Regions from separate parts of the Homo sapiens genome. Here regions 1, 2, 3 and 5 are each linked to region 4. Evidence: fine-mapped expression QTL. A gene starts in region 4. Each other region holds a variant in brackets. All regions are shown on one strand. Distances are from middle to middle.

Evidence for each region. PIP is the estimated chance that this variant, and not a neighbour inherited with it, causes the effect.
Region 1: its variant is fine-mapped to the expression of BCAS4 in whole blood (TOPMed, PIP above 0.99).
Region 2: its variant is fine-mapped to the expression of BCAS4 in whole blood (INTERVAL, PIP above 0.99).
Region 3: its variant is fine-mapped to the expression of BCAS4 in whole blood (TOPMed, PIP above 0.99).
Region 5: its variant is fine-mapped to the expression of BCAS4 in whole blood (INTERVAL, PIP above 0.99).

What each region holds. Positions count from the first base shown.
Region 1 is chr20:50,874,386-50,879,548 of GRCh38, forward strand. It overlaps BCAS4 (breast carcinoma amplified sequence 4), which reads left to right. Exons shown (of 5, transcript NM_198799.4): 5 at 2,101-2,792. The coding sequence ends at 2,223. It overlaps LOC124904929 (a long non-coding RNA gene), which reads right to left and starts at 1,626. Exons shown (of 2, transcript XR_007067647.1): 1 at 1-1,626. RefSeq lists enhancers at 517-1,228, 1,756-2,336, 4,995-5,163. The variant A/T (reference allele first, on the strand shown) is at 2,332.
Region 2 is chr20:50,719,018-50,724,188 of GRCh38, forward strand. No RefSeq gene overlaps it. Among named protein-coding and RNA genes, the nearest start is that of PARD6B, 10 kb to the right of the region's middle. The variant C/A (reference allele first, on the strand shown) is at 3,002.
Region 3 is chr20:50,815,634-50,820,633 of GRCh38, forward strand. It overlaps BCAS4 (breast carcinoma amplified sequence 4), which reads left to right. Exons shown (of 5, transcript NM_198799.4): 2 at 2,578-2,649. Among named protein-coding and RNA genes, the nearest start is that of BCAS4, 23 kb to the left of the region's middle. RefSeq lists enhancers at 3,093-3,142, 3,153-3,202, 3,690-3,739, 4,723-5,000. The variant C/T (reference allele first, on the strand shown) is at 2,371.
Region 4 is chr20:50,791,982-50,797,144 of GRCh38, forward strand. It overlaps BCAS4 (breast carcinoma amplified sequence 4), which reads left to right and starts at 3,080. Exons shown (of 5, transcript NM_198799.4): 1 at 3,080-3,192. The coding sequence starts at 3,103. RefSeq lists a silencer at 2,813-3,632.
Region 5 is chr20:50,824,315-50,829,314 of GRCh38, forward strand. All of the region lies in intron 2 of BCAS4 (breast carcinoma amplified sequence 4), which reads left to right. Among named protein-coding and RNA genes, the nearest start is that of BCAS4, 32 kb to the left of the region's middle. The variant C/T (reference allele first, on the strand shown) is at 3,111.

The DNA of each region.
Region 1 (5,163 bases), 82 kb after region 4:
TGTGAAGGTCCTACACGGCTCAGCACCCGGAAACTCCCCCAACCCTCTAGGATGAGCTGAGGCCCCATCTGGGTTCCCCAGGCCTTTGTGCCTGTCCTGCCATCAGCCCGCATCATAGGGTGGCATTGTTTCTCCTGGTTCATTTGTGTCCCCACTAAGTGCCATGCCCCATGAGGGCTGGGATGGTTGTCTTGTTCACAGCTGTGTCCTCAGTGCACAGGACAGGGCTGGCCTGGTGCACTGTGAGTTGCCGGCTGGTGGACAGATGCTTGGAGGATGTGTGACTTGGGGCAGGGCAACTCCTGAGTCTTGATCTCCCCCTCTGCACTGGGGTCATGGTGTCAAGTGCAGGGGGAGGGGAGGGAAGGGGAGCAGGCAGCATGGGGAGGGGCCTGCAGAGGTGTCTGGCAGTGGGGAAGCTGTCATTGGCCATAGTCTGGAGCCCACATCCCTGTACTGACACGCAGCTTTCAGCTGTAGCCAGAACTGGGTCTCAGCCAGAGTGGGCAGAGGTGGCCAGGAGACGAGACAGTGCAGGGAGCTGGGGGACAGGGTTAGGGGGTGGTGAGAAGGTCCCCTCCCTCTGTCCTCCTTGACCATGCATCCTTGCTCATCTCCACCGGCTCCAACCAGGAGCAGTAGCCCGGGAGCCCTCTCCTTCTTCTGGTGCAGGCCGTGGTCCTTACAACCTGGACTCTGCATGAGAATCACCTGGGAGCTGTGAAATGTCCCACACCCAGGCCACGCCCCCGAGTAGAGACATCTGACCCCCTGGCGTGGGCCCCGGGCATCAGTAGTTCATAAAACTCCCAGGAGATTCCAGCGCATGGCCAGGTTTGACAGCCGTCATTCCAGGTGGTTCTTGGTGACCTGGTTTTTCCTGGAGATGCTCAGCAGCCTGCAGGAGCCCGCCAGCCAGCGCACAGTGAGCGGCTCGATGGGAAATCTCCCCTTCTCCGCCTCCCTCCACAAAAATCCTCACCAGAAACGAGGAAGCACTTCTTAAAATGGTTTTGTTTTTTGAAAGAGTAGCACATGCCTATGGCAGGAACTCCAGGCAGCACAGATGGGTACACAGTGGAAGAAAAATCAGTCCTGGCCGGGCGCGGTGGCTCACGCCTGTCATCCTAGCACTTTGGGAGGCCGAGGCGGGCGAGTCACCGGAGGCCAGGAATTTGAGACTAGCCTGACCAACATGGCAAAACCTCATCTCTACTAAAAAAAAAAAAAAAAAAAAGAAAAAAAATTAGCCGGGCGTGGTGGTGCACGCCTATAATCCCGGTTAACTCAGGAGACTGAGGCAGGAGAATTGCTTGAACCCAGGAGGTGAATGTTGCAGTGAGCCAAGATGGCACCACTGTACTCCAGGCTGGGTGACAGAGCGAGACTCCGTCTCAAAAGAAAAAAAAAAATCAGTCATGCCACCAACCACAGCCACTGTACCCAGGCTCTGAGATGGCCCTGCAGAGCTGTCACGTGTCGGTATAGGTCCCTTTGTCACATGTCTACCCTTCTCACCTTGCTTTCTTAGTCCTCCTCTGCCAGAACATATTGATCTGCCTGGCTTTTTCTTTTTTCTTCCCCGAGACATTGTCTCACTCTGTTTTCTAGGTGGAGTGCAGTGGCACAATCCCAGCTCGCTGCAACCTCCGCCTCCCGGGTTCAAGTGATTCTCCTGCCTCCGCCTCCCAAGTAGCTGGGATTACAGGTGCGCGCTACCATGCCCGGCTAATTTCTGTATTTTTAGTAGAGACAGGCTTTGACTGTGTTGGCCAGGCTGGCCTCAAACTCTTGACCTCAAGTGATCCGCCTGCCTTGGCCTCCCAAAGTGCTGGGATTACAGTCATGAGCCACTGCGCCTGGGCTGCCTGGCTCTTCTTGATGCCTACAGAGTATTCCATTGTGGAGAGGGCCTGACATGGATGCCTTGGTCCCTTTGGGTGGCCGGCTTTGGCTGTCACAGGCAGTGCTGTCAGAGGAGCTCAGAGTCTTTGGTCATATGTGTGAGTCCTGCAGGATGAACTTGTAGACCGGGAATTCCTGGGTCATGGAACAAGTGGATCCAAATCGCTGATAGAGCTTCATTTCTTGTCATTCCAGAAGTCACCTGCACCGGTGCCCGTGACGTACGAGCTGCCCACACTGTATAGGACGGAGGACTATTTTCCTGTGGACGCCGGGGAAGCACAGCACCACCCCCGCACCTGCCCTCGGCCTTTGTGAGCTTTGTGGTCTTCCCATCAGGAACGCTGGAAAGTGACATTGTGTACACACTGCAGCTTGGGGGTTTTTTCTTTGTATTGCTGTTTATTTTATATTTTAAAAATATTT[A/T]AAAAAATGTCGAGATGGGGTCTCACTATGTTGTCCAGACTGATCTCAAACTCCTGGGCTCAAGTGATCCACCCACCTTGGCCTTCCAAAGTGGTGGGATTATGGGCAGGAGCCTCCGTGCCCAGGCTGCTGCCATTTTCAAATTTCCTCCCTGCCTCATGTGAGACCACAGGGTTTGGAGAAGCAGTTGGAACCCACGTGTGGTGATGCCTCCCACATCGGCCTGCTTGGGGTTCTACAGGGGTTGAGGGACCAGGCCTGGCCGGGGCTGATGGACAGTGGGGACTTTCCTTCTCTCCATGATGGCTTTGCAGGGGCTCCATGGTCCTTCTCTCTGTGATGGGTTTTTGCACGGGGTGTGCTCTGCCACTGTGGTGGGTGGGTGGATGCTGCTTCTGTTGCCTCCAGACCTCGGTGCCCACAGCCTTGAGGATCCTTCCAATAAAGGTGTCAAGAGCTCAGCCCTGGTCTGGTGTGAGAATGACGGGGAGTGATAGTTTCCTTTTCACCTGTGCAGTGTTTTCTAGAAGGTTCCTCCTGTGCCTCACCTGCGAGGGCCTGATCCTGGGCACCTGCTGATGAGGCTCCAGCTGAGGGAGGGGTAGTCCCGGCCTTTGGATTTCCAGCAAGAGTGCAGAGGTCATTAGGACCCCCAGGGTCTTCAAAGGCTTGTTTACCCACATTTCTTCCCATGCAGATGAGTTTCCTGCTATTGTCCTAACACTCCGGATTTCTCACTGTGGCTTCAACCTGCAATGGGTATTTCTGGAATTCCTCGAAGAGCCAAGAACACACACATAATTCCCCTATGCACATACAGGACTGAACTGTAAATCTGCATTAGAATTTCAAGATAATCTGCCTGGGCAAGGTGACTCATGCCTGTAATCCCAGCATCTTGGGAGGCTGAGGCAGGAGGGTCGCTTATGCACAGGGTCAAGACTGCAGTGAGCCGTGATTGTTCTACTGCACCCTAGCATGTGCAACAGAGCAAGACCCTGTCCCCCACACCCCAAAAAAGTTTTTCAAGGAAGCCTAAAATAATGAATCTGGCAAGATAGAGTAGAGGCCAGGTGCAGCGGCTCATGTCTGTGATCCCAGCACTTTGGGAGGCCGAGGCAGGCAGATCGCCCAGGAGTTTGAGACCAGCCTGGGCAACATAATGAGACCATATCTCTACCAAAAATACAAAAATTAGCCTGGCGTGCTGGTGCACATCTGTGGTCCCAGCTACTTGGGAGGCTGAGGTGGGAGGATTGCTTGAGCCTGGGAGGTTGAGGCTGCAGTGAGCCATGATTGTGCCACTGCACTCTAGCCTGGGTAACCAAGTGAGATCTTGGCTAAAAATGTTTTTAAAAATTAAAAACAGAAAAGCAGGGAAATAGTTTAGACAATTTTTGGAATTCAGAGATATAGGTAGACCCCTTGTTTCTGGAAAAGTCAGCATTTTTATTCTCTTTTCTTTTTTTTCGAGATGGAGTCTCACTCTGTCACCCAGGCTGTAGTGCGGTGGCATGATCTCAGCTCACTGCAACCTCCGCCTCCCGAGTTCAAGCTATTTTCCTGCCTCAGCCTCCCAGGAAGCTGGGATTACGGGAGCACACCACCACGCCCAGCTAATTTTTGTATTTTTAGTAGAGACGGGGTTTCGCCATGTTGGTCAGGCTGGTCTCGAACTCCTGACCTCAGGTGATCCTCCTACTTTGGCCTCCCAAGGTGCTGGGATTACAGGTGTGAGCCACCATGCCCGGTCAGCATTTTTTTATTGAGGTGACTTTTACAATTTTTTTTTTCTTTAAATGAGACACCTGTCACCCAGCCTGGAGTGCAGTGGTGTGATCATGGCTCCCTGAAACCTCAAGCTCCTGGGCTCAAGTGATCCTCCTGCCTCAGCCTCCCAAGTAGCTGGGACCACAAATGTGCACCACCATGCCTGGCAACTTTTCAAATTTGTTTTATTTTTTGTAGAGACAGGGTCTCCCTATGTTGTTCAGGCTGGTCTTGAACTTCTGGGCTCAGGGGACCCTCCTGTTTCGGCCTCCCAAAATGTAGTGTTGGCACAAACCTTTATTGAAGTATAATTTATATTACAGAAAGGGGTGCCTAAGTGGTTCACTAAATTTTTCACAAACTGAGTGTATCTATTTAAGCCTCACCAGACTGAGCAACCAACATTATCAGCACTGAGCAGCCCCCTCATGCCCGCTTCTGGTCCATGCCCATACCCACCCCCACCCCAGGCTGACAGCATACTGACATCTAACCATATGGACTGGAGTTTCTTGTTTCTGTGCTCTGTATAAAGAGAGGACACACGGGATGTGTACCTACGGTGTGTCATCTCTTGTCTCTGGCCTCACCGGCTTGATGTTACCTTGGGAGGTGTCACTGTTGCTGTGTCACTGTAGATCATTCCCATGGCTGTGTTGTATTGGCTGGGACTGTTTTTATCGAAGGGAGCTTGGACACTCTGCATGCCCCAGTGTGCTCAGGGAGAGCACACGTTGGATGGAAAGTTGGCCGGGTGAGGTGGCTCACGCCTGTAATCCCAGCACTTTGGGAGGCCAAGGTGGGCAGATCACTTGAGGTCAGGAATTCGAGACCAGCCTGGCCAACATAGTGAAACCTCATCTCTACTAAAAATACAAAAATTAGCCAGGTGCTGTGGTGCACCCCTGTAATCCCACCTACTCGGGAGGCTGAGGCAGGAGAATCGCTCGAATCTGGGAGGTGGAGGTTGCAGCAAGCCAAGATCGTGCCACTGCACTCCAGCCTGGGCAACAGAGCGAGACCCTATCTCAAAAAAGAAGAAAAAGGAGAAAGCTAATGTTA
Region 2 (5,171 bases), 73 kb before region 4:
TAACTGGGAAAGTCACAAGCAAACTGATATGTGCCCATCACCTTAAGATGAAATGAGAGGCCGGGTGTGGTGGCTCGTGCCTGTAATCCCAGCACTTTGGGAGGCCGAGGTGGGCGGATCACTTGAGGTCAAGAGTTCGAGACCAGCCTGGCCAACATAGTGAAACTCTGTCTCTACCAAAAAATATAAAAATTAGCTAGGCATGGTGGTACGTGCCTGTAATCCCAGCTACTCAGGAGGCTGAGGCACAATAATCACTTTAACCTAGGAGGCGGGAGTTGCAGTGAGCCGACATGGCACTACTGCACTCCAGCCTGGGTGACAGTTAGACTCCATCTCAAAAAAAAAAAAAAAAAGATGAAATGAGAGTGTATATGTACCTTTATTTTATTTATCTGTTTTTAATTTTAAAATAATTTTTTATTTATTAATTAAGATGGGGTCTCACTGTGTTGCCCAGGCTGGTCTCGAACCTCTAGGCTCAAGGAGTCCTCCCACTTTGGCCTCTCAAAGTGTTGGGATTACAAGCATGAGCCACCAAGCCCAGCCTACATGTACCTTTAGAAACAACACCTGCACATTTTTTTTTTTTAGACGGAGTCTCCCACTGTCGCCCGGGCATGATCTTGGCTCACTGCAACCTCCACCTCCCAGGTTCAAATAATTCTCCTGTCTCAGCCTCCCAAGTAGCTGGGATTACAGGCTCCTGCCACCATGCCCGGCTAATTTTTTGTATTTTTGGTACAGACGGGGTTTCACTGTATTGGCCAGGCTGGTCTTGAACTCCTGACCTTGTGATCTGCTTGCTTCAGCCTCCCAAAGTGCTGGGATTACAGGTATGAGCCACCACGACTGGCCAACACCTGCACATTTTAATGCTCCTTCATCTTTTCTGTTTCTATTCGTGGCTGCCTCCAGCCATGGTTGATTCCTTGCCATTTGTAACTATGGTCCTCATTTCCTCAATATCCACTCTGCAGGGGCCCATGATATGCCTTTTATTCCTATCACTACACTGACTTGTTTCCCAAAGTTCCAAATACATGTCCTGGCCAGTCACGGGACAGCCATTAAGAGAATTTATTAAGTGCCAGGCAAAGAGCTTTTCAACAAATCCTTCAGACTTTTCTTCTTCCTCAATTTTCAGGCGACACGTAACTTAAAGGTTAAAATGGGGATGATAATAGTCTCCTCCCCTTGCGTGAATGCCCACAATGGTTTTTGCTTATCTGTCCACTCCTCCTCTGTCTCTTAATAGTTGAAGAGCCTGGTGTGGTGGCTCCTGCCTGTAATCCCAGCACTGTGGGAGGCAGAGGCAGGTGGATCGCTTGAACCCAGGAGCTGAGGCCAGCCTGGGCAACATAGTGAGACTCCATCTCTACAAAAAAATAAATAAAATTAGGTGGACATGGTGGCACATGCCTGGGGTCCCAGCTACTTTGGGGGGCTGAGGTGAGAGGATCGCTTGGGCCTGGGAAGTCAAGGCTGCAGTGAGCTGTGATTGTGCCACTGCACTCCTGTCTGGGCAACAGAGTGAGACTGTCTCTAAAAAAAAAAAAAAAAAAAAAACACCCAAATAGTTGAATAATATGAATTATAGTGACAATTTTTTGAGAGCTTACTATGTATAATACTAGGCACTATATCAAACCCCTTAAAAATATCTCATTGGATCCTTATGAAAAATCCAAGGAATAGGTACCATTATTATCCCCATTTTACAGATGAAGAAACTGAGTCAGGAAGGCCAGCTCACTTCCCCTAGTGGCAGAATCAGGACTTGAACCCAAGTATGACTCCAGAGTCCTTGCTCCAAGCATTTCACTATTCTGTTTCCTCTTCCTTCTCCTGCCTCAACTGTGCTTTCTGGACAAGTTTCTGCCTTGATGACAAGGCTCTGAGCAGGAAGCCTCACCTCTTCAAGACTCAGTCTGCTCTTCTTTTTTTTTTTTTTTTTTTTTTGAGATGGAGTCTTGCTCTGTTGCCCAGGCTGGAGTACAGTGGCACCATCTCGACTCACCACAAGCTCCACCTCCTGGGTTCACACCATTCTCCTGCCTCAGCCTCCCGAGTAGCTGGGTCTGCAGGCGCCCGCCACCACGCCCAGCTAATGTTTTGTATTTTTAGTGGAGACGGGGTTTCACTGTGTTAGCCAGGATGGTCTAGATCTCCTGACCTCGTGATCCGCCTGCCTTGGCCTCCCAAAGTGCTGGGATTGCAGGCGTGAGCCACCGTGCCCGGCCTGCTCTTCTTTTTTTTGAACAATATAAACATGGTGTATTAACACCAAATAGTTGTGAGGATGGAACGCTTGTGAAATGCATAGCACAGTGTTCCCAGCCACTGTGATCAGTATTATAGAAGAATTTTGATTATTACTCCATCAGTATGTTCCTGTTGTAGACTGAATTGTGTTCCCCAAAAAGATAGGTTAAAGTCTTAATCTCCAGTACCTGGGAGTGAGAACTTATTAGGACATAGGGCCTTTGCAGATGTAATAAAACTAAAATGAGGTCAGGCCTGGCATGGTGGCTTACACCTGTAATTCCAGCACTTTGGGAGGCCAAGGTGGGTAGGTCACCTGAGGTCAGGAGTTCGAGACCAGCCTGGCCAACATGGCGAAACCCCATCTCTACTAAAAGCACAAAAATTTAGCTGGGTGTGGTAGCAAGCACCTGCAGTCCCAGCTACTTAGGAGGCTGAGGCAGGAGAATCACTTGAACCCAGGAGGTGGAGGTTGCAGTGAGCCGAGATCATGCCACTGCATTCCAGCCTGGGCGACAGAGCAAGACTTCACCTCAAAAAAAAAAAAAAAATTAAAATTAGGTCATTAGAGTAGTCCTAAATCCAATCGCTGGTGCCCTTATAAAAATAGACACAGAAACAGACAGACAGACAGACACACACACACAGAGAGAACACCACGTGATGCATGTGATGATGGAGGCAGAGCTCAGAGTGATTCGGCTGCCAGTCAAGGAACACTAGTGATTGCTGGCAG[C/A]CACAGAGGCTGGGAGAGAGGCACGGAACAGCCTGTCCCTCAGAGCCTCCAGAAGGAACCAACCTTGCCAATACATAGATTTCAGACTTCTGGCCTCCAGAACTGTGAGACAGCAAAATTGTGTTGTGTTAAGCCACCCAGCGTGTGGTACTTTGTGAACAAATACACTTCCTGGCCAGGCGCAGTGGCTCACGTCTGTAATCCCAGCACTTTGCGGGGCCGAGGCAGGCAGATCACTTGAGGTCAGGAGTTCGAGACTAGCCTGGCCAACATGGTGAAACTCTCTCTACGAAAAATACAAAAATTAGTCAGGCGCGGTGGTGCACGCCTGTAATCCCAGCGACTCAGGAGGCTGAGGCACAAGAATTGCTTGAACCCAGGAGGCAGAGGTTCCAGTGAGCTGAGATCAAGCCACTGCACTCCAGCTTGTGCGACAAAGCAAGACTCTGTCTCAAAAACAAAACAAAACACACACAAAAAACAAATACAGTTCCCTTCCACAGCCTAAGTCCAGACCTTCACATTCTGTGCAAGTTCCTCTTCCAAGGGCCTCTTCAAATGCAGGCCTGCCTGCAGCTCTCTTTCCTCAAATCTGTCTTAACACACCAATTTCTGACTCCCGGGTCAAAAACCTGCGATGACACCTGAATACTTACATCAGTATTTCCTAAAGTTGCTTGAGATAAGGATCACCAGGATGACAGTCCAAATTACAGGTTCCCTGCTAGGTGTGGTGGCTCACGTCTGTAATTCTAACACTTTGGGAGGCCAAGGCAGGTGGATTGCTTGAGCCCACGGGTTTGAGACCAGCCTAGGCAAGAAGGTGAAACCCCATCTGTACAAAAAATACAAAATATTAGCCCGGTGTGGAGGCGCACACCTGTAGTCCTAGCTACTCAGGAGGCTGAGGTAGGAGGCTTGCTTGAACCTGGGAGGGCGAGACTGTAGTGAGTAGTGATTGTGCAACTGCACTCCAGCCTGGGTGACAGAGTGAGACCTTGTCTCAAAAAATAATAATAATTATAGGTTTCCTGGGCCCCGCTCCAGACTACCAGACATGAGATCACAGAAGAGGCGCTTGGAATCTGCATTTTTAATAAGCACCCAAGACAATTCTTTTCCTCAGTCACATTTGGGACACTCTGGCCTACAAGATAAAATCTGGAAGAGACTAAAGATCTTGCCTCGATGATCTCTATAAAATGGCGCCAGCCTCCCCATTCAAATGTCATCTCCCAAGGCTTCCCACTGTCTTTACATCCCTCCATGTGAACAGCCTGCCTCACTGTCCTCACCTTGATCAACCTCTGCTCAAACCTTTGTTCTTGCCATTCTCCTGCCCAGAACACCTCTTCCTTTTCTCCCATCATCTAGGTCTGATTCAGATGCCACAGATCTTAAAATTATTTCTAATTGTTCCAAGATAGCTTCTCAATGACCTCAGAATAAAATTCAATGTCCTTGTCATAGCCTGCAAGAGGCTGCATGATCTGGCCATGGTCGGTCTCTCTCTCTCTCTTTTTTTTTTTTTTTTGAGATGGAGTCTTGCTCTGTCACCCAGGCTGGAGTGCAGTGGCACAATCTCGGCTCACTGCAACCTCCACCTCCCGGGTTCAAGCAATCCTCCCACCTCAGCCTCCCAAGAAGCTGGGATTACAGGTGTGTGCCACCGCGCTCGGCTAATTTTTGTATTTTTAGCAAAGATGGGGTTTCACCATGTTGGCCAGGGTGGTCTCGAACTCCTGACCTCAAGTGATCTGCCCTCCTCGGCCTCTCAAAAGTGCTGGGATTATAGGCGTAAGCCACCATGTCTGGCCTCAGTCTCATTTTAAGCCATTCTTCTCCTTCACTCCAAGCTCCAGGCCTGGTCGGGTACAGTGGCTCATGCCTCTGTCTAAGCAAAGGCATGTACACGTGCATGGATGCACACACACAAGCACACACACAACACACACACACACACACTTGCTCCACTCATTTCACTCACTGTACCCTGTTTGATTAGTTGCCAACATTTAAAAATCAAGAAGTTTCACATAAAAACGTCCAGTCTCTAACTGGATGCAGTGGCTCATACCTGTAATGCCAGCATTTTGGGAGACCGAGGAGGGAGGATCGCTTGAGCTCAGGAGTTCCAGACCAGCCTGGGCAACATAGTGAGATCTCATCT
Region 3 (5,000 bases), 24 kb after region 4:
CCCAGCTGTGAGATGAAGGTTGCAGAGTTTAAAATTGCAACTTGGTACTATTTATACTCCAGCCTGAAAGATGTTTTTTTGTGCAGTCGTTTATTTTGTTGTGGTGGAGATGGCTCATGCTGGAAGCAGCAGGAACTGGTGCTGTATAAACAGTTCTCTGGGGACAAGTGGGTGGTGAGGGAGCCTTCAGGTGCAGGGGGCAGGGACTAGGCCTGCCCAGAAACTCTGAGCACGCCTCCCTGGAGCAGGACGGTGTGGCCTGGTAGGGAAAGCAGATCATGTGCTTGGCGAACTTTCTTCCTGAATGCTGGCCATTACAAAAATAACAACAGAAACTGGTATTTTAGAAGTCATAAAAGTAGTAGATAACTTGAGGGGGAAAAAAAACCTAATTTTTCTTTTTTGTTTTTGAAGACAGATCTTGCTCTGTCTCCCAGGCTGGAGTACAGTGGCACAATCTTGGCTCACCGCAACCTCCTCCTTCTGGGTTCAAGCAGTCCTCCTGCCTCAGCCTCCTGAGTAGCTGGGACTACAGACGCGTGCCACCACGTCTGGTTAAATTTTGTATTTTTAGTAGAGACGGGGTTTCGCCATGTTGGTCAGGCTGGTCTCGAACTCCTGACCTCAGGTGATCTGCCCACCTTGGCCTCCCAAAGTGTTGGGATTACAGGCGTGAGCCACTACGCCTGGCCAAACCGCTAATTATTTCCCTAATTTTTACACAAGTGCATGAAGCAGTTGTACACTGGCAGGCCCTCTGCACGTTCGTTATTGGCTTAATTTGTGAAGCATTAAAGGGTTTTTTAAATGTGTTCCAATGTTTAAACATTGGGGCATTTCCTATCAAATTAGGATTTCTGGCTTCTCTTGGAAAATGGAAAGATCTGGCAGCTCCGGGCCTGCATTTCCTGATGGCAGCTAGTGGCCAGCAGCTGGAGGACTGGATGAGCACCTCTCAGATCACAAGCCTGATGGCCTGTTTCACTCATTTATGTTAATGTCCAGCCTGATGACTGGGTTTTATTTCTTCTTCTTTTTTTAAAGACAAGTTCTCACTCTGTCGCCCAGCCTGGAGTGCAGTGGTGCGATCACTGCTTACTGCAGCCTCAGCCTCCTGGGTAGCTGGGACTACAGACATGCACCACCATGCCTGGCTAATTTTTTTTTTTTTTTTTTTTTTTTTTTTTTTGAGACGGAATCTCGCTCTGTCGCCCAGGCTGGAGTGCAGTGGTGTGACCTTGGCTCACTGCAGCCTCCGCCTCCCGGGTTCAAGCGATTCTCTTGCCTCAGCCTACTGAGTAGCTGGGACTACAGGTGTGTGCCACCACACCCGGCTAATTTTTGTATTTTTAGTAGAGATGGGGTCACCACATTGTCCAGAATGGTGTCGATCTCCTGACCTCGTGATCTGCCCGCCTCAGCCTCCCAAAGTGCTGGGATTACAGGCGTGAGCCAGTGCACCTGGGCTAATTTTTTTTTTTTTTTAAAGGGATGGAGTCTCACCATGTTGCCCAGACTGGTCTCGAATTCCTGGACTTAAGTGATCTTCCTGCCTCGGCCTCCCAAAATGTTGGGATTACAGGCATAAGCCACTGCTCCCGGCCATGGACCCTTTACATAACATAAAAAATTCAAGTTTCCCTTGTCAGAGTCCCTTTCCCAACTCCTCCTGCCCAGGGCTAAGTAAGCCCTGTTAATAGGGTTTCCAAAGAAACTATGGGATGCCCGGTTGAATTTGAATTTCAGATAAACAACAAATTTTTTAAGTATAAGCACATCTCTTAACTATTAGCAGTCTGGCACATATCATTCCAGGCCTTTCTCTGTGAAGACATGTACTTTTTTTTGAGACGGAGTCTCGCTCTGTTGCCCAGGCTAGAGTGCAGTGGTGCAATCTTGGCTCACTGCAGCCTCCGCCTCCTAGGTTCAAGCGATTCTCCTGCCTCAGCCTCGGAGTAGCTGTGACTACAGGCACACGCCACCATGCCCGGCTAATTTTTGTATTTTGAGTAGAGACGGGGTTCTGCCATGTTGGTCAGGCTGGTCTCAAACTCCTGACCTCAGGTGATCCGCCCGCCTCACACATTTTTTTTGGTATGGTTTGTATCTGACACCGTCTGCAGCTTGCTTTTCCTCTCCGGGGTATCACCGGGGCCACTGTGTTTATTAGAGCAGGCTGTGAGGTTGTGGACTCCATCTGGATTAGGATCCTTGCCCCGCTGTTTGTTAACTGTGTGATCTTGAGCAGGTTACCCCACCTCTCTGAGCCTCCGTGTCCTCATCTGTACAACGTGGAGGATACGGGTAGCTTTGTTATTTCCTGTATTTGTTGATCTTGTCTCTTTTGAAAGCTGCATAGAATGGAGAGGC[C/T]GTGGTGGCTTTAACCAGTCCTCCGTGATGGGCGCCAGGACTGCTGCCTGTTTATTGCTCTTTCAAAGGAGGCAGTGGAAGGGGGTCGAGCAGGAACCGGGCACATAATCCTAAGACTTAGTTTGCTTTAAAAAAAAAAAAAAAATGAAGGGTGTTTGTCTCCCTGGAAACCACTTGCTAATCTCCAGGATATCGTCTCTTTTTCAGGCGAAGGAGGTGGAGGAGACCATCGAGGGCATGCTCCTCAGGCTGGAAGAGTTTTGCAGCCTGGCTGACCTGGTGAGTGGCTGCCTGGAAGGCGTGGGTTTAGGCCCAGGCCAGACTTCAGGCCCTTGCTGGAGTTTTCTGCGGAAGCCATTTTGGTGGTGAGTTAGCAACCAGGAGGAATGGGGCAGCGGCCAGCGCTGAGAGGAAAGCCACGTGCAAACACTCCCTCCTCTCTCTCTCTCTCGCTCTCTCTCTCTCACTCAACCCCAAGTGCTTCCTGAGGCGGCCATCTTGATCTCGTCCTTCCCTCGAGATGGTTTTTATTCCGCAGAGGAGCCAGGAGTGGACCACAAGGTGGCACTCTCGGGCACCGATGCAGGGAGCCGTTCAGCGGGGACGCTAGACTATATTTAACTTTCCTCAGCTCTGCACCGTCCCCTGTGCAAACATGGAGACAGCCAGGAAATGGCTTCAGGCCTGCGAGGCCTAGGAGGAGCCTCTTGCCCAGGCCACAGCCCGTGGTGGAGTTGGGCATCGAGTTCCTTCCTGAATCCTTCTGTTCTCTCTGCTTTTACCTCCTACTCTGTCTGGTTGGCCCAAATCTACTAGCCTGGCTGAGGAGGAAGATGGAAGACAATGGCCCAGAAGACAAAGCCTCCCACGCCAGAGTCTCTAGAAATCGCCTCTAGAGGCTGGGTGCAGTGGCTCACACCTGTAATCCCAGCACTTTGGGAGGCCAAAGCGGGCAGATCACTTGAGGTCAGGAGTTCAAGACCAGCCTGACCAACATGGTGAAACCCTGCCTCTACCAAAAATACAAAAATTAGCCGGGTGTGGTGGCAGGCGCCTGTAATCTTAGCTACTCAGGAGGCTGAGGCAGGAGAATTGCTTGAACCCGGAAGGTGGAGGTTGCAGTGAGCTGAGATTGCGCCACTGCACTCCAGCCTGGGTGATAGATCAAGATTGTGTCTCAAAAAAAAAAGAAAAGAAAAAGAAATTGCTTCTAGATCCCAGTGTTCCTAGGATTGCTGCCAGCCAGGTGTGGAGCCCCCAGGAGTGCTGATAGAATTTTCTAGAAGCTCCCAAGCTTATTAGAGGCAAACCAGTAACCTGGGCTTGAGGTGTCTGCCTGGAGGCCCAAAGGGTAGAGCTCCATATTGTGACCAGGCCCTGTGTCTCCCCAGAGTGGAGGAAGCCTGGCCACCTGGGCCCAGTGGTGTGCGTTTATGTCCCTGAGAAGCACCGTGTCCGGACCCTGAGAGTGTTTGTGAGAACCCAAGGGAGTAACAGTAACAGCAGCCCCAGATGTTCATTGAACGCCTTTCTTTGTGCCCGGCACAAAGCCACCCTAGACAGCAGGCACTGAGTCATCCCTACCTATTCAGCGGACCTCGGCCCAGCCTCTAGGGTCACAGCAGAAATCCCAAGAGGACCTATATGGTTTCTTCTCTTGAGTCAATTTTTACGTTCAGATGTGGGTCCAGGTGGGAGCTAGGTAACAAGACAGGCTTTTAACAGCCTGGATTGTCCTTTCTTTACCACCACGCATTGGACTCTTTCTTTCTCTTTCTGTCTTTGTCTTTCTGTCTTTCCGTCTTTCTGTCTTTCCGTCTTTCCCTCCGTCCCTCCCTTCCTTCCTTCCTTTCTTCCTTCCTTTCGAGATAGAGTCTCGCTCTGTCCCCCAGGCTGGAGTGCCGTGATGCAATCTCGGCTCACTGCAACCTCTGCCTCCCGGGTTCAAGTGATTCTCCTGCCTCAGCCTCCTGAGTAGCTGGGATTACAAGCATGCACCACCATGCCTGGCTAATTTTTGTATTTTTAGTAGAGACAGCATGTTGACCAGGCTGGTCTTGAACTGCTGGCCTTAAGTGATCCTCCCGCCTCGGCCTCCCAAAGTGCTGGGATTGATTATAGGCGTGAGCCACCATGCCCGGCTGCATTGGGCACTTTCTCATGAATGGGCCCCGTCATAAACTTGAGTATGCAAAGAGAGTTCAGTCCATCTCCATTCCCATCAAGCCCCAGTGTATGTGGGGAGACTGATTTGGGTATCAGTTGGTGCCGTCCCATGCTACAGTGCTGTTGTCAAGGTAAGGTCAAGGTGTGAAGGGATTCCAGAGCCAGGGGTGCTAAGTCCTGCCTAGGAAATTGGGAAGGCTTCGTATAACAGGTGGTGATGAATCTGGGGCTGTAAGGAGAAATAGAGAATTCAACAGATGGGGAAGGAGTGCATTCAGGCAGAGGGACCAGCCTGTGCAAAGGCGGGGAGGCCAGGGATGTGGTATGGCTGGGCACTGGGTGAAGGATCGTGGTTGCGGGCAGGGAAGGCAGGTCGGGAGGATGGTGTGGATGGATGCTCCAGGGACACCTTTGTTTTCAAATCCCATCCCGTCATCCACATGGGCATTCTGCGCAAGGAGACC
Region 4 (5,163 bases):
GGGTGCGGTGGCTCATGCCTGTAATCCCAGCACTTTGGGAGGCTGAGGCGGGCAGATCACCTGAGGTCGGGAGTTCGAGACCGGCCTGGCCAACATGGTGAAACCCCGTCTCTACTAAAAATGCAAAAATTAGCCAGGCGTGGTGGTGGGCACCTGTAATTCCAGCTACTTGGGAGGCTGAGGCAGGAGAATCACTTGAACCCTGGAGAAGGAGGTTGCAGTGAGCCGAGATTGCGCCACTGCACACCAGCCCGGGCTACAGAGACTCCGTCTCAAAAAAAAAAAAAATATTAGGCGTAGTGGCATGTGCTTGTAATCCCAGCTACTTAGGAGGCTGAGGCAGGAGGATCACTTGAACCTGGAAGGTAGAGGTTGCAGTGAGCTGAGATCGTGCCACTGCACTCCAGCCTGGGCGACAGAGCGAGACTCTGTCTCAAAAAATATATATATATTAAATCCCTCTTGGGCTGGGTGCAGTGCCTCACTCCTGTAATCCCAGCACTTTGGGAGGCCGAGACTGGTGGGTCACTTGAAACCAGGAATTGGAGACTGGCCTGGCCAACATGTTGAAACCCTGTCTCTACTAAAAATACAAAAATTAGCCAGGCTTGGTGGTGCTTGTTCCTGTAATCCCAGCTACTGGGGAGGCTGAGGTAGGAGAATCGCTTGAACCCGGGAGGCAGAGCTTGCAGTGAGCCGAGATTGTGCCACTGCACTCCAGCCTGGGCAACAAAGCAAGACTCTGTCAAAAAACAAAAAAAAGAAAGAAAGAAAGAAAAGAAAAAGAAATCCCTCCCTCCCATACCCCTCTCCAGTTTCTTCTCCCCCGCCCTAAAGTAACCACTTTTGGAACATGGGGTACGTCGTTCCCATGCACAGCTTTGTACTTTTGCTCCATCTGTCGGTGTCCATAAACAATATACAGTGTGGTTCTGCGTGTTTTAAAAACTGTGCTAATGGCACAGTGCCCTACAGAGCCTTCTGCAACACGACTTTTCTTCCTTAGCTTTATGTTTCTGAGATTTATCCACCAGGAGAAGTTTGCTGTGCTCAGGTCAATTTGGTGATCTGAGGCCAGTCCTGGGCTCTTTGTGGGAGATGCCTAGCCAGCAGGCAAGGGCAAGGGTCTGAGACCGGCTCCCAGGGGATGGCGAGGAGGGCTCAGAGCATCAGGGAAATCATGACAATGACGAATGGCCGAGTGTGGGCTCAGTGAGTTCCTATAAAACCCTTAAGCACTTGAGGCCCAAGTCTTTGCCAAGAATTTTCCAGAAAATGACTGGCCTGAAGGCCTGGATATTTGGATAGGGAGAAATTAGCAGTGGACAGATTTGGAAGTGGGAATTGTGCAGTGATGGACTACACAAAAGGCAGGTCAAACATGTGTTGTTTAGGCCCCTACCTAGGGTGGCCAACTACAATATAAATTCAGATTTAATGGAGAGGAAGGTGTGGGACGTCCTATATATTTATTTGCACCCTTGATACCAGCCCCTCCTTTTTAAAAAACAACAACAACAACAAAAGACAGAGTTTCACTGTGTCACACAGGCTGGAGTGCAGTGGTGCGATCATAACTCGCGGTAGCCTTGAACTCCTGGCCTCAAACAATCCTCCTGCATCTGCCTCTCCAGTAGCTAGGACTACAGTTGTGCCCCACCACATCCTGCAATTTTAATTTTTTTTTTTCTTTTAGAGAGATGGAGTCTCCTTATGTTTGCCCAAGCAGCTCAGCCTTTTTTTTTTTTTTTTTTTGTGAGGCGATTTAACATTTAAAGAAAAGTCAGCAGGCAGGGGGCGCTGGCCCACGCCTGTAATCCTAGCACTTTGGGAGGCCGAGGCAGGTGGCTCACCTGAGGTCAGGAGTTCGAGAGCAGCCTGGCCAACATGGCGAAACCCCGTCTCTACTAAAAAATACAAAAATTAGAATTAGTCGGGCGTGGTGACAGGCGCCTGTAATCCCAGCTACTCGGGAGGCTGAGGGAGGGGGAGAATTGCTTGAACCCGGAATGTGGAAGTTACAGTGAGCCGAAATCGCACCACTGCACTCCAGCCTGGGCGACAGAGCGAGACTCCGTCTCCAAAAAAAAAAAATTAATTAATTAAAAATAAAAATAAGTCATCAAACGAAAAATCAAAACTTCAGACTTGTCTTATACCTATTTGCCTTTTAGTACTTTCCTCATTAGCACTGTTGGGGTGGGAGATGAGGCGCACCTCGCTCTCTTCAGCCCCAAGGCTTGTAAAGGGTCTATCTAGGCCGGCCTCCGAGGGCATGGAGGGAGTGGGTGCGGTTGTGAAATGTAGTGCGCTCAATAGTTTCCTGGTGAAGTTTATTTTAAAATCCGCACCGAAGAGGAAGACGAGGACCGTCACACTCGGCCTTCCCTAAATTCCAGGACCCTCCGCCCGATGCAAACTAGATGCTTTAGTAGGATGGGAACGGGTGGGGGGCGGGCGGCTTTGGGCTTCCTCTAAGCTAGCGCCTCTCTAACCCGGACGCCCGTTAGAATCACCCGGGGAGTTTTAGAAACTACCGATGCCCAAGCCCCACTCCGAAGGATTCCAACTTAATCGGCCTGGTGCGAGGCCTGGCTTCCGGGCTTTTAAAAGCTTCCCGGGGATTCTATTTTACGGCCGGGTCCGGGGCCGGGAGCCTGTACTCTACCGGGATTCCGATGGGGAGGGGTGGCTTGCCCCAATAGTTCTCAAATTTAGCTTTGGGTCAACAATCTGGTTGGAACCACCTAACAAACATCAAAAGATCCTGATGCCCAGGTCTTAACCCAGAGACGGTGTGGTCCAGGCTTGGGAAATTCTAAAAGAGCTCCAGGTGACTGCCATCTGCAAGCGAGTTTGCAAAGCACTGATGCCCAGGTGCTGCGGGGGCGGGCGCAGCGCGCGCCGCTCGCCACTGGGTGGCGCTGCCCGCTCGGCCCGGCGCTCCTGGAGCTGCGAGCCGCGACCGCCGGGAGCGCACCTGCCCCGCCTCCGCCAGGCGGTCCGCGGGGCATGCAGCGGACCGGGGGCGGGGCTCCGAGGCCCGGGCGCAACCACGGGCTCCCAGGCAGCCTCCGCCAGCCGGACCCCGTCGCCCTCCTGATGCTGCTCGTGGACGCTGATCAGCCGGAGCCCATGCGCAGCGGGGCGCGCGAGCTCGCGCTCTTCCTGACCCCCGAGCCTGGGGCCGAGGTAGGGGACGGGGCTGTGGAGTTGGAGGAGAGGGTTCTCGCGGTTAGGGGTCCGGGCTCCGGACCCTCGGCTTCCCCGGAGCATCCTCTCGCTCCCGGAGTGGGGGGCCCGGGGATTCCCCCCTTCCTGAAGGGTGGCTGCGGGGCGCCACGCAGAGATGTGCAGCGGGTCGTCCCTGCTCGCTCCTCCGGGCGACACCGGGCCCCGGAGGCCCAGGCTCGCTTTCCCTCCCCACCCGGGTCCCCCAGCATCCGCCGGGTCCTCAGGCGCCGCCCTTTGCCAGGCCGGCCCTGGGAGAGGCGGACCCCGGGACCTCTGCTGCCCCGGCTACCTCCGAGCGGTGCCCGGGCCGAGCGGCGCCTCAGGCTGCGGCTGTGCGGGCCGCGCTGCGCTGCTGCAGCTCGGAGCGAAAACACCACGCCTCTGTCTGCGCTTTCTATTTTAAAAGCACCAAGTGAAAAGCAGATCTAAAACGAGACCCTCTACCTTCCGGCTGGAGGCATCTGTCGACGCTGTTGTGAAAAAGTTATTTGTCTGAGTTCACTAGGAGTTATTTACGGTCAGAAATTCAACCCATTCTCTTTTTAAACCACAAAAGCAGTACAGGAGTATTTAACATAAAGGCTATGCACCCCTTTCTCTTTTCTCTCCCACCCCAATTCTAGTTTTCTTAGAAAACCAGCATTAACTGTTTGGTATAAATCATTCCGGACATTTAAAATGCATTTACAAATGTAGATATCTGTATCTGCCTAGGCAGAGTATTGGCTCATGCCAGTGGTCCCAGCATTCTGGGAGGCTGAGGCAGGAGGATTGCTTGGGATGGGGATAGGGGACGGGGAAGAGTGAGGCTGCAGTGAGGCTTGATCATGCCACTGCACTCCAGCCTGGGCGACAGAGTGAGACATTTAAAAAAAAATCTATCTCGCCAGGCCTGGTGGCTCACGCTTGTAATCCCAGCACTACTGGGAGGCCGAGACGGGTGGATCACCTGAGGTCAGGAGCTCGAGACCAGCCTGACCAACATGGTGAAACCCCGTCTCTACTAAAAATACAAAAATTAGCCGGGTGTGTAATCCCAGCTACTTGGGAGGCTGAGGCAGGAGGATCGCTTGAACCTGGGAGGCGGAGGCTGCAGTGAGCTGAGATCAGCCATTGCATTCCAGCCTGGGCAACAAGAGCAAAACTCCCTCTCAAAAAAAAAAACCATAAAATATCTTTCCATATATATATATATACATATATATGAGTTTTCTCTTTTTTCTTTTTCTTTTTCTCCATATATATATATATATATATATATATATATATATATTTTTTTTTTTTTTTTTTTTTTTTTTGAGATGGAGTCTTGCTCTGTCACCAGGCTGGAGTGCATTGGCATGATCTCAGCTCACTGCAACCTCCGCCTCCCAGGTTCAAGGAATTCTCCTGCCTCAGCCTCCCGAGTAGCTGGGACTACAGGCGTGTGCCACCATGCTCAGCTAATTTTTGTATTTTTCAGTAGAGACGGGGTTTCACCATGTTGGCCAGGATGATCTCTATCTCTTGACCTCGTGATCCACCCTCCTCGGCCTCCCAAAGTGTTGGGATTACAGGCGTAAGCCACAGCGCCCAGCCATCTCCACATATTTTTAAAATAATTTTTGAACAGACGTTTTTAATTTTTTTTTTTTTGACAGGGTTTCACTTTGTCACCCAGGCTGGAGTGCAGTGACACAATCATAGCTCAATGTAGCCTCAACCTCCTGGGCTCAAGTGATCCTCCCACCTCAGCCTCCCGCATAGCCAGGACCACAGGTGCGCACCACCATGTCAGGTTAACTTTTAAAACAAAGTTATTTTGTGGAGACGAGATCTCACTATGTTGCCCAGGCGGGTCTTGAATTCCTGGGCCCAAGAGATCCTTTGGCCTCAGCCTCCCAAAGTGCTGGGATTATAGGCATGTACCACCATGCCTGGCCCATCTAT
Region 5 (5,000 bases), 32 kb after region 4:
TCAAATGCCTTTGGCTCTCCTTCCTAGGGGCCTGAATCATTCTGGACAGATGACTTTCCTCTGTGGTGACCTCAGAACCTGCTGCCCAGACTTCTGGGTTCTGGAGACCAGGTCTGGAGAGGTGGGAGGATAGTTGGGGGAAGGGTCTGGGGCCTCCAGGCTAGCACACCTGGTTGGGTGTTTGTCCTGGGAGAGGCTCTAGAGCATGGAGGCTTTTTCACTGAAATCTGTTTGCTCTTCTCAGAGCGTAGCCCAAGGCGTGCAAATGTAAACACCTGTAATGTAATGAGAAGTGAGTTGGAGATGAGAAATGTGTCACTTTCCTTTTGAGTCCTCCATAAGAAGAAAGTGCTCCTCTGGGTAGCTATGGATTCCATGTTGGGGAGACTGTAGGGAGTGATGGGGACTGGGGTTAACAAAAGTGGCAGCTGCCACTCAGCTCCAGCTGATTGTTGCCATGTGGAACATGGGCTCAGTGTGGCCAGGTCTTGGCTCAGTGTGTCCAGGTCTCCTGATTTTTCACAAGAAGTCAGAGATCTGGGTTTCTAAGGGAAATATCCTGACTTTGATATCTTGGCATCTGGTTTGGTTTTACTTTTTTTGTTTTTTTTAGGCATGATTGGGCTGACACTGCCTTTGCCCGATGAATGACATCTGTAGACCTCTGGTGTTAGGAAGGGTGGTCTCAGGCCCATCTGGATTAGACTCCTCCCTCTCCCACTTTTTAGCTTTGTGACCTTGGGCCAGCTCATTTAGTTTCTCTGAGCCTCGGTTTTATCTCCCATAAAATAAGGTTGAAGAGGAAATAGTTCTTGCCTCACAGGGCCTGTTCCCAGCACATGGTGAGAGTTCATGGAGTGTGCTCTGTTGGTATCGTGCCCCTCTAGACTGGACCTACATTAACCCTACAGTTCTGTTTTTTCCTTTAATAAATTTTTAATTTTTAAAATAGAGATGGTGCCTCACTGTGTTGCCCAGACTGGTCTTGAACTCCTGGCCTCAAGTGACCCTCTCACCTCGGCCTCTCAAAGAATTGGGATTACAGGTGTGAGCCACCGCACCTGGCCCTAAAGTTTCTTTTATGGTTCCCAGCCCAGGGTGGAACCAAGAGGTAAGGTTTGGGGCCTTTCAGCCCCTAGGATTGCCTTCCCTGGCCCCTCATTCTGAGTAACTACGGTAAACCTCTGGGCAGATATAAACAGTTCCCTGTTGCCTTCAGTTTCAGCCATTGGAGAAGCTGCATCAGAGAAGGGATTTCTCTAAAAATAAAATAAGAAACAGGCTAGGAGCAGTGGCTCATGCCTGTAATTCCAGCACTTTGGGAAGCCAAGGTGGGAGGATCACTTGAGGTCAGGAGTTCAAGACCAGCCTGGCCAACATGGTGAAACCCCATCTCTACTAAAAATACAAAAATTAGCCAGGCATGGTGGCAGGTGCTTGTAATCCCAGCTACTCGGGAGGCTGAGGCAAGAGAATCACTTGAACCTAGGAGGCAGAGGTTGCAGTGAGCAGAGATGGTGCCACTGTACTCCAGCCTGGGAGAGAGAGTGAGACTTGTCTCAAAAAAACAAGAACAAAAACAAAACTAAATAAACAAAAATAAGGGGGAAAAAAAGAGACTTCTTTATTCCCAATTCTTTGGGATTTAGGGGGCGAGGGTGGTCCTTGAGTCTCCTTTCTACCACTTTCTCTGTCTGCTGTAGGTTGCCAATCCCAGCCCATACCCCCAAGCTCATTCTCACTCCCCCGATTTGTTTCTTTAGAAATTAACAGAAGGATACGATTCAAGTTTGTTCCCCGGTGCTCTGACCTTGCCCTGGAATTAATTATCTGCTCTTTGCTACATCAGGGTGATTTTCTCCAAGTTTAGCCTTGTTGAGGAATGAGCTTCTCTCTAGAAATCTGGCCTTGGGGAAGAAAGGGAGGAGACTGAGGACCTTTCCCTGTCACTGGTAACAAATGCTGGAGCCAGGCAGAGCGTGGAGCTGGGGTGAGACAATGGGGAGGGGTGATGACTGTGGAAACCCCAGTGATCAGGCCCATCTGGAGGGAGCAGTCCCAGCCTTTGCTGCCCGGGGAGACTCAGGCCCATCATTGCCAAAGCTGCTGACTTAAGAGAAGCTGTAGATCCAGACCTAATTACTTGAATTTTTAAAACCATATTTATGTATTTTTTATTTTGGAATAGTTTAGATTTACAGGAAAATTGCAAAGATTGTTCAGAGAGTTGCCATATTAACCCTAAAGTTTTTTTAAATACATTTTTAATTTTTTAATAGAGATGGTGCCTCGCTATGTTGCCCAGGCTGGTCTTGAGCTCCTGGCCTCCATTGTTAACATCTCACATCACCATGGTACATTTGTCAGTACTAAGGGGCCAGGCACAATGGCTGACGCCTGTAAACCCAGCACTTTGGATTGAGGCAGGAGGATAGCTTGAGGCCAGGAGTCCAAGACCAGCCTGGACATCACAGTGAAACCCTGTCTCTACAAAAGATAAACAATTAGCTGGGCATGGTGGTGGACAGCTGTAGTCCCAGCTATTCAAGAGGCTGAGGCTGGAGAATTGTTTGAGCCCAGGAGGTCGAGGCTGCAACAAGTCATGATCACACCACTGCACTCCAGCCTGGGTGACAAAGCAAGACCCTATAAAAAAACAAAAAAACAAAAAACAACCCACGACCCCCCACCAAAAACAAACAAACAAACAAACAAAAAAAACGAAGAAACCAGCATTGGTATGTTGCTATTCACTGAACTCCACGCTTTGTTTTGATGTCACCAGTTTCTCATGAGTGTCCTCTTTCTGTTCCAGGATCCAGTCTAAGGTGCCACATGGCACGAGGTTGTCACATCTCCTTAGTCTATTCCGGTCTGTGACAGTTTCAGTCTTACCTTGCTTTTCATCACTTGTGCAGTTTTGAGACATGCTGGTCAGGTGTTTCGTAGAAGGTCCCTCGATTTTTGTGATGTTTTTCATGTGGTTAGACTGGAGATAGGAATTTATGGAACGATCACCACAGAGGAGGAGCCTTCTTATCACATCCCATCAGAGGGTCCCCGATGCCCACATGGCATCACGGATGTGAGCCTGCATAAGGTGGTGCCTG[C/T]GGCTTTCTCCAGTGGAATTTGCCATTTCCCCCTTTCCAGACCCATTCAATCCTCTGCACATATTAGGTTTGTGCACATTTACTTTGTACTTGGAGCTTTGATCTAATACTATGTTAATTTTTTGTTGCTCAGCTTGTCCCAGCTTTGGCCATTTCACTCTTGCAGGTTGGCTTCTGTGTCCCTTGGGTAAGCCCCATCTCATCCTTTATTTTGTGGAACACTTTCTTGCTTTCTGGTGCTACAAGATGCTCCAGACTCAGCTCAGTCCTAGAACCAGCCATTTCTCATGGGAGCCCCACTTGAATTTTTATTTGTTTTAGAGACAGGGTCTTGCACTGTCGCCCGGGCTGGAGTGCAGTGGCGCCATCTTGGCTCACTGCAACCTCTGTTTACCGGGTTTAAGCGATTCTCCTGCCTCAGCCTCCCGAGTAGCTGGGACTACAGGCGCACGCCACCATGCCCAGCTAACTTTTGTATTTTTAGTAGAGACAGGGTTTCTCCATTTTGGCTGTGGCTAGTCTTGAACTCCTCACCTCAGGTGATCTGCCCACCTTGGCCTCCCGAACTGCTGGGATTACAGGTGTAAGCCACTGTGCCCGGCCTTCAAAAATTTTTTTTTTTTTTCAAAATATGAGATGAGGAAACCGAGGCCCAGGGAGGCTAGGGGACCAGCCTGGTGTCATAGTGGAGAACAGTGGAGCAGGGGCTTAGGCTGGGCAGCCTGACACCACATGCCACCCTCTCAGGGCCGATTTTTGACCTTGTGGGATCAGAGCGTGAAAAACGAGTATCCCTGAGGACACTGGACACCTAGAGCTAGGTGCCCAGAGAGATGGCAGTGCTGTGACCAGAGGAGGGCTAGGCGTGGGGAGAGGCATGGAGGAGTTTGGTTTTAGACGTACAGGGCAATGGGGCAAAGGTCTCGGGAAACCGAGGGCAAGGGGGAAATGTTATCCTGAACAGTGGTGGGAGCAGATTTTCACGATAACCACAAGAAGTCTGATGTACTTAGGCAGAAAGAGGAGGAAAAACAGGTATAGTTTTCAAAAAAAAATTTTAAATAAAAATCTGGGGCCAGGAGTGCTGACTCATGCCTGTAATCCCAGATCTTTGGGAGGCCAAGGCAGGTGGATCACTTGAGGTCAGGAGTTCAAGACCAACCTGGCCAACGTGGTGAAACCCCGTCTCTACTAAAATACAAAAACTACGCAGGCATGGTGGTGCGTGCCTGTGGTCCCAGCTACTCGGGAGGCTGAGGCAGGAGAATCGCCTGGACCTGGGAGGCGGAGGTTACAGTGAGCTGAGATTGTGCCACTGCACTCCAGCCTGGGCAACAGAGCCAGATTCAGTCTCAAAAAACAAACAAAAGTGAGTCACTAGGCTCAGCCCAAAATCTTGGGGAGGGGATTACATGAGGGTGAGGATACCAGGAGGGTGAGACCACGGGGGGCACATCAGAAGCCGCCTCCACACTCCACGCCAGCATTGTGCTAAACAGCTCATCCTCAGTATCCCAGCGAAAGAAGGACCATCGTCTTGCACCACTGTCCCAGTGAGCAAAGGAGGGCTCAGAGAGGTGCAGTGAGTTGCCCAAGGTCACAGAGCTCATGGTGGGTAGAGCTAAATTTAAACACTAGCCTGACTCCTTAGTCCAGCTCCTGCTGTGCCCACTGGTGTTTCTCTAACAGTGGTCCCCAGATTCCTATTCCAACGTTGCCTCAGACTGTTGGCTGAAAGTGCGGATTCTCAAACTAGGAGAGGCTGGGAATCAGCATTTGAAAGGCTTCCCCCAGGAGATTCAGTTGCTCCCCAGAATTTTATTTTTTTTCTTTTTTGAGATGGAGTTTCACTCTGTCACCCAGGCTGGAGTGCAATGGCTTGATCTTGGC